2 separate regions of the Homo sapiens genome follow, and region 2 is linked to region 1. A link means that fine-mapping ties the variant in region 1 to the expression of a gene that starts in the linked region. Tissue or cell type: tibial nerve. Region 1 holds a variant in brackets; the other region holds the start of a gene. All regions are shown on one strand. Distances are from middle to middle.

Region 1 (4,353 bases):
GTAACAATGCACTTCTCATAGATGGTAGGAGGGAGGCAGTCTTGTTTCAAGTAATACTATTTCTGGGCGATAATCCAAAATGCGCAGTAGGCAGAAGTTAAAAGGAGGCGCTTGCTTTTAGGTTTTAAAAATATATCCCTTAATCCTGGGTGATGATTGACAATCATGATTTAGAGTATGAGGGGCCTCTCTTTAATCCTGCAAGTTTGATGTTATTTGCGTATCTAGTAGGGCTTTTATTCAACTAAAACTAAGTGGAAGCCTGTGCAATTGATGCCGCATTTCAGAATTGATTCTTGGCCTGGTACTCTATTTACAGATTAGTAAGTACACAGGATCTGTCCTCCTCCTCATCTTTTTGAAATTTAAAGGTTCTAAAAGGCACATTTACAATTAAAATATTTATTGCTGTGTAAGAGTATGACCAGGAGATGACTTTTTTCTGTATAATTTAATTTCTTAAGAAGCAGTCTGTAAGATTATATTAATCCTGATTTGATTATCAAATTATGATATTAGCTATTGGTATTTATAAATGATTAAAATGTTGTCATTATTGACTTCATGTGCTTCGGTATAAGTTCTTTGGAGAAATTTTAATGAATTACCTCCAAGTCTCTTGCTCCTATTAGGTTTCTTGCAAAGCTTTTCTAAGGAATAGATCAATGTTAAGCCATTATATTACAATTGTTTTATCAGCTGTGACAATAATTTGATTTAAAATCACACATTAAAATAAAATTAGTTAAATCATAAACTCCAAAACAAGATGTCATTAAGAAAGGAAAATATACAGGAGTGAAAGTTAACAAATTTTACAGCAGAAACAGGAGTAATTTTTTTTGAGGCACTTAAGCACTGCGGTCAATGTCTTTGTCACAGTTCCATTCGACAAAGCGAAATAGACTACATGTGAAGCCCAAGTGTCTTTCCTGTATTCTCATGATGTTTTAAATTATGTAGTTTTTGGAGAATGTTTAAGAAGTTAAATACATTCATTACAGAAAATTTGGAAAGTACAGAAAAGTATGAAAAGAAAATAAACATGACCTTCATTCCCAACAGTCACTATTGGGCATCGTCTTCTATTTTTTTTTCTTATATTTTGTTGCAAGGATTTAGATATAAGGGCTAAAATGTACTTCCCAGGAGACATTCTGGCTGCTAGGAGTGTGTAGAAGCATTCAAAGTGGGTTCCTCTGGAGTCGGGTGAGTGACACAACCTGCTACAGGTTTGGTCTGTATTTTGTAAGCTGCGTCAGCAGAGCTTTCTATGAAAACCCCAGTGATGGGATCCTTTGTGTTTAGAATATATTCTAACCTAATAAGTGCATGTTGATAATACCTCTTTCTGTTAACATTTCAAAAGCCCGTTTTGCTGTAGAATCATGCATTTGATATTTAAAAGCTAATGAATCCAACTGATAGATAGTAGGAAAATTTTATTGATATATTCATTGCAAAATAGTTCTTCAAACCAAATTTTGTTTTTGCCTTTGTACTCATAGTTTCTTGCCAGTAAATGACTGAGTGATTGCTACAGTGAAAACACTACTTGCCTACAGCTTTGCTCAATTAATTCATAAGGACTACATAGGTAATTCATTAAATCTTAATGAAGATTGGATATAGAGGAGTATAGTAGTTGGATCTAAATCTGCAGCTCAAAAATCAAATCCTAACCCCTTAGACTGCCAAATCCAGAGAAAAGTCAAGGCCCTTTCTCTCCAGCCAGCGATGGCTATCATCCTAGAAACCTACACTGTTGCATGGTTTTTCCTCTGCTTGGAATGCTCTTCTCCTACCTACTTCCCACCCTCAGGTCTCGCACTGCAGCAATTCCTTCCAGAAACTGCTCAAGTGTCTCCATGAAGCTTTTGGCTACTGCCTCCTCCCCAAGGTCCTGGCCCCTTCCTCTCCACTGCCAGGGCACTACACACACACAGACACACACACACACACACACACACACACACACACCCGTCCACGCAGCTCTCATCACCTCTAGTTTCCATGATTTGTTTACTGTCTGTCTGCTCCTTACCTGTAGTCTAGTGAGCTCTCACAGTCTAGCACAGCATTAAAAAATGGTTTGTTGACTGAATGACTTACTAAAATAGATGAATAAACAAACGGATGGTTGAATTTGCTCATGAGATAAGGGTACCCACCACCCAGCATGTGTCTAGCACATAGTACACATAGGAGCAATGACCATCTCTGATGTTATTACTTTTACTGAATAGTTATCAGACATTGCATTCAGTGCTTTAATGAGTCACTCATTTATGGTAATCTTACTGCTATCCATATTTTACAGAAGAGGTAACAACCAATAGCTCACAGCGCAGGCATCAAACCCATGCTGTCTCATTCCAAAGCCTATGTACTTGGCAATATTAAATAATCTACTGCCTTTTTCTATAGGAGGCAGTCAATACTTGAATGAATGAGTGGATGAATGCTT[C/T]CCCTCTATGAAAGAAGCTATGGTAAGTAAGAAGTTACAGTAAGCACCTACCACCAGGTGCACAGCAAGTGCTCAATAAATGGCAATGCTATTGGCTTTGTTATTTTATCATACGGTCTCCCTCAGAATGACCAATCCAAATACCATCATTGAAAATAAGACATGGTATTAGGGCTGGATTGAGATATGCAAGCACCAAGTGTGTTGAAAATCATGGTTCAACATTTGTTTAGTGAGGAGTGATCAATACTGGCAAGGATGTTTTGTCTTGCTTTGTTTTGTTTTGTTTTTATTTATTTATTTTTATTTTTTGAGACGCAGTCTTGCTCTGTCGCCCAGGCTAGAGCGCAGTGGTGCGATCTCGTCTCACTGCAAGCTCCGCCTCCCGGGTTCACACCATTCTCCTGCCTCAGCCTCCCGAGTAGCTGGGACTACAGGCGCCCGCCACCACGCCCGGCTAATTTTTTGATATTTTTAGTAGAGACGGGGTTTCACCGTGTTAGCCAGGATGGTCTCAGTCTCCTGACCTCGTGATCCACCCGCCTCGGCCTCCCAAAGTGCTGGGATTACAGGCGTGAGCCACCGCGCCCGGCCTGTTTTCTTTTCTTTTCCCTTCTCCATTTTAATCTCTTCTGAAAGGTGATCTACTTTAGTAGAAATGGAACCATGTTATATTTTGTCCTTTGTGTTAGGATGCATAGACAAAGAACTGAGTTCACTGACAATATATTTCCATGGTTTTTGTTTTTGTTTTGTTTTGGTTTGTTTGTTTGTTTGAGCATTTCTAATATATAAGTGCCACAGGTATTTGTCTGATTGAACCACCCTATAATCTGGCCTTGAATAAAGAATGATATTATGACAAGTGCCACAAAATGTCTCAAATGCCAGTGATCTACTTGGCTCAGAGATTCTTAGCCCTAGTTTTGAATCAGCTCATTTGGGGAATTTAAAAAATCTTCAGATACCCAGCATCCAATCTCAGAGTTTCTGATTAAGGAGAACTGGAGGGTTGTGGTTGACACATGTACTTTAAAGTAGCTCAGTCCTATGAATCGGGATGAGAAGACTGTGTCCAGAACTAAGGAGACAAAGTACATACAGGCCTCTTCTGTGTCTGGCATATAAATATAAATACAAACCTTCCTTACCTTGAAACCCCCTAATTAGGATGGCAGATAGAAAAAGACAGTAAAGATTTATTTCCAGCCTTGTCTGGGGGAGAATGGAATCTGACTGTGACTATGCAAATCATTTGCACAGACCTATTCAGTGGTTTCACAAATTTGGCTTTTTATTGGAATCACCTGTGGTAGTTTAAAAACGAATCCGCAAAAACCATAATCTGAGTTCATGGGCAACACATTTCTGTGGTATTTTTAGCATCCCTAAGATATTGATGCCACGGGCTCCCATCCCTGGTGATTCTGATCCAATTGATTTGGGGTGTGGCCCAGGTATCAGGACTCTTGAAAGCTCCCAGGTGATTCTAATGTGCAGAAGAGTTTAAGAACCACTGGTCTGTTTGAAGAGACTGCATCAGACATGGAATAACTGACTCTGTTTGGCAATTTCCTTTCAACGAAGGTATCCTCTTGGATTGCTCTTTCTGCCACTCTCGAAGCCTAACTCTCAGTAAGCAGACCTCTGTTTCAAAGGCAAGAAGAAGGGAGTGCAGTGAGTACAGCTAAAATGTAGGATTCTCTGGTTTCCTAGAAGTTCTAGATGGGACCTCTGGAAGATTTTGTGGAGGCACTTTTTTGATATGTACCTTTGCTCCATCCTTATTCTCACAAAGAGAGCTCCTGACTTTGTAAGCTAAGGTGTTAGGCTGGCCAAGAGAAGTAGTCCATTTGACAGTCAAAGATCTCAGTAAAACTGAGTAC
Region 2 (4,155 bases), 82 kb before region 1:
CTGCAGCTCAAAAGCTCAATAGGTACTTGTGGCTAGTGGCTACAGTATTAGCCAGTACAGATTAAGAACATTTCTCCTTTCCATCATCATAGAGAATTCTATTGGACATGCTGCCTTAGATGAACACAAAGTATCATGGATGTTTCTTTAAAATAGTGTTGAGAAATGTGACAAATGTAACATTAGGAAGTGAAGTCTAAAGCACACTTAATTATGTAATTTGAAAAATGCATACAATGAAAAAGAGTAACATCGAAGATGTTAAGAGTTATCTGTCAGTGGGAAGGGAACGGCAGTTAGAAATAGGTAACCAAAGGGAATATAAGTAAAATGAGAGATACTTTGTACGGACTGATGCGCCTGGTAAAACCACGTACTAAAGAATATTATTAATCTCCTGTATTTGAGGTCCAACAACAAATGTTGGGGTTAGTGTCAGCCAGAAATCCTGGGGGGAAATGGTAAACTCCAACTCTGATGCCCTCAGGAACAAAAACTGTTAAGGTTGCAAAGAAGGAATTTTTCATATCCCCATTGCCAACCAATTTTCATTTAAAATTAAAATCTTTTTTTTCTGCCTCAATCTCAATTCTACTATGGTACTACTTCACTATAAGCTTTCTTCAGGGAAGAACGAATTGTGACAAAAAAGAACTATCAATGGCCAGAGAATAAAAGGTGAAATAGACCCACTCGATTGCCACCAACATTTTACAATGAGTTACTGTACAATTCCCTTAACAGAGCTATTTTGATTACACAGGGCAAATTCTAATAGTGGGACCAGATCAACTTAACACAATATATGAAATAGTGAATACATTTTTTTGTGTTTCTATTTTCTTCAACAATTAGGAACTGTAAACTGATGATTTCTACCATTGACACATATTAACAAGATAAAAATAAAAGCCTGGGCGGGGCGCGGTGGCTCCTGCCTGTAATCCCAGCACTTTGAGAGCCAAGGCGGGCGGATCACGAGGTCAGGAGATCAAGACTATCCTGGCTAACACGGTGAAACCCCCTCTCTACCAAAAATACAAAAAATTAGCCGGGCGTGGTGGCGGGTGCCTGTAGTCCCAGCTACTCGGGAGGCTGAGGCAGGAGAACGGCATGAACCCGGGAGGCGGAGCTTGCAGTGAGCGGAGATCGCACCACTGCACTCTAGCCTGGGGAACAGAGCGAGACTCCGTCTCAAAAAAATAAAAACAAAAAAATAAAAGTCTGATATAACTTAGCATGGATTTTTCAGTAGAATAAGTTAAAATGTTCTGGAACGATTTTGTCAATGCATGTTGAAAAATCTGAAAATGTTTAGTGCTCAGTAAATTTTCTACCGTTCCCTTAGTCATCTCCATTTTAATTCTAAGCAGACGGAGGTCATTTTAAAACACAATACTAATAGAAAACATATACCGTAAATAATATGTACCAGTCATCAACTCAATTCTCACAACACTGTAAGGTAGGACTATTAAAATCTCCATTTAACAGACGAAACAGAGGTCTGTTAACTGGCTAGCCCAAGGTCACGCAGCTATTCGTGGCAAACCTGGGCCACGAAGCACCACAAAACTATGCTACTTCATCGATCTTCTGATCCATCATCCCTGAGGATTCAGATTTGCATTTACCTGGAGAATCTCACGGTGCCACAAAGTGGAGTTCCCGGTTCGTGGCTTATGAGCCACACTGCCCGCTGCGCCATGGTTAAGTCAGTAAAGCATTAGCTCATCTCATAATTAAGGTCGCCACCGAGGAACAGCGCAGACCGGCTTTCTCAGACAGACTCTTAACAGAAGCCCTGAGGCTCATCCTGCGCCGCATACCGGTCGCGCTCAGCAGAGAGGTTAGCTTTTTTAGGTGAAGTCACTAACGCTTCTGAGTCGCTCTAGGCCAACACACACCACAAAAAGTTCTAAGAACCCCAACCTATAACCTTGAGAAATTTACCTATACCCTGCAACTCCGGTATTTTCTTCCTCTAAATTCTACTTCCGGAATGGTGGCCCGCAAGGATCAAAGTTCCTCATACACGGTAGCGTCGAGCCTTTTTTCGGTTCTTTCGCCGCTCGTTTTATTCGCCGGCCCCTCCCGACAACCTCCCTGGCGCGCGCAGTTCCACTTCCGGCGTATGAGGCGGTGACAATGGGAGCAGCGCGGGCGGCGCCGGGAGGCAGCTGACAAGCGTTTGCGGCTTCGCTTCATGGCCGCTCTCCCGCCCCTCCTGGGATCTGTGGGGAGCTGGGGAGCCCGCAGCGGCCCGGAGCCGGAGCTGGCGAGCCGAGCGGAGACCTGTGCGCCGCGCCTCTGAGGCGCAGCATGTGAAGCGGAGACGGCATCCAGTGGGGGGCGAGCCTCTCAGCCGGCCGGGATGGCTACCACGGCCGAGCTCTTCGAGGTGGGCCCCGGCGGCTCTACAGGGAGTGGCAGGCCCGGGGTTTGCAGGCAGCTGGGTGGGCGGGCCGAGGAGCGGGCGTTTGCTGGCTGCCCAGGAGGAGCCCTCGGGAGAGAGGTGCGAAACAGAAGGGTTGGGGTGGCAGCTCCGTGTCAGCGCGGGCGGAGCGTGAAATGGGGGAGGGGTGCTTGGGGCCGAGGTGGGCTGGGCGGCCGGTCGGCAGAGAGGGGAAGCCGGGTGTCCCAAGGGAGGAGGGTTGCTTTTGTTTGTGGGGGCAAGAGGGAAAGTCTGGAAGGTTCGGGTGTTGGAAGATGTCTACTCCGGATGAGTAGTGGGAAGGGCTGACTCAGGACGAGGAAAGAGAGCCAGGAGCCTCAGGTTGGGCGAGTCTTGTCGCTGGGGTCCTCGCGGGAATAATAGGAGGAAGCCACTTGAGATCGGGACTCTTGGGGGCTTCTCGTTTTGAGTAATTATTCCATTAGTAAGGTTGCAGGTGGCATTCATAGGACTGCCAGTTTAACCTGACATTTGAAAAGGCTGGGACAATTTTTTTTTTTTTGGACAATAAAGGCCTACTTATCTCTTTCGACTGAAGAGAGATAGACTGAAGGGAGGCAAAATTCAAGTGAACACTTTATTTCATGTAATACATAATAATACACTCGAGGCATTTACGTGTATTATAAAATAAAAAAAGTTTATAAAATAAAACGAACACTTCGTTTCATGTATATAATGCACCTTAAGTGTATTATATGCATTTACATGTATTATAAAATCACCTAACTGCAAGCTAGAGAATCCTTAATATGTAATAGTGAGAATACTAATGTCTTTCCTCGAGCGTTTACAGTATCTAAACCTTAAAATTTAATTTCGTGAAGTCCGTTGTAAGAAGCTGTGATAAAAGTTTGAGATAATAGAATAGGAAAACTCTAATTAGGCTACAAAACAATGACACGTATAAAGCATCTCCTTGTGTGAAAGAAATGAAAACGGATAAGAAAAAGGAAAGAAAGACCCCTTTTTTGTGTGTGTGCTTGTGTTTCACATTGAGTAACAAAAGTGTAATAATTGAGAAGACTGTAATCCACAATAGGGAACTTCTCCATAAGTGAAAATGGTATCCTTTTTCTGCGTAAGATTCAGCAGTTTTTGTGGCTTACAATTTGAATGCCACAGTTTTAATAACAAATGGAAATTTACATTTGTTATTGTTACTATATTTTGCATATCAGTCAGCTTTTGGATAGATAATGCTTTTTTTGAGAGGAGTAATATATGTTATTGTTATAATAAGTTGTAATAAGACAGTAATTTGTGAATGAAGGATTGTAATTACAAGAAAGACTTCAGAGATATTGTATTTTCTCACTTAAGTGTTGGGAGATATGCTACATTAATTTCTGTAATTCCAAAATTGTGCCATCTGTTTATTGACACAAGAACGGGGAGACATTTTTCCTGCTAGGAACTTTTACTGTGTCCCTAGGTACTAAGTAGTGCTGTGGTTCCTTGTTTTATTTTTCACATCTTAAAAAGGGAGAAAACGATGAAGTTGTATGAGATCTTTAATTAAGGTATTTGCCGGCAAGCCAGCTCTTAACTGAAAACTGTTATATATGTTGTCATACAGTTCATAAGACATTATCCTTTGAGTTAATCCTGCTTGACAGTTCCAGTTGTACCTTGGACCATCTTATGTATATTTTTATTTAAATGTTTGACCACATGATTTCAGTAACTTATTTGGAAAT

What was found. PIP is the estimated chance that this variant, and not a neighbour inherited with it, causes the effect.
Region 2: AP5M1 starts here. The variant in region 1 is fine-mapped to the expression of AP5M1 in tibial nerve (GTEx, PIP above 0.99). The same link has a PIP of 0.9 or more in aorta and transverse colon.

The regions. Positions count from the first base shown.
Region 1 is chr14:57,184,959-57,189,311 of GRCh38, reverse strand. No RefSeq gene overlaps it. Among named protein-coding and RNA genes, the nearest start is that of EXOC5, 82 kb to the left of the region's middle. The variant C/T (reference allele first, on the strand shown) is at 2,468.
Region 2 is chr14:57,266,868-57,271,022 of GRCh38, reverse strand. AP5M1 (adaptor related protein complex 5 subunit mu 1) reads right to left here and starts at 2,052. Exons shown (of 8, transcript NM_018229.4): 1 at 1,635-2,052. The coding sequence starts at 1,708. It overlaps EXOC5 (exocyst complex component 5), which reads left to right and starts at 2,118. Exons shown (of 18, transcript NM_006544.4): 1 at 2,118-2,401. The coding sequence starts at 2,375. RefSeq lists enhancers at 1,888-2,087, 1,735-2,318 and a silencer at 2,628-2,687.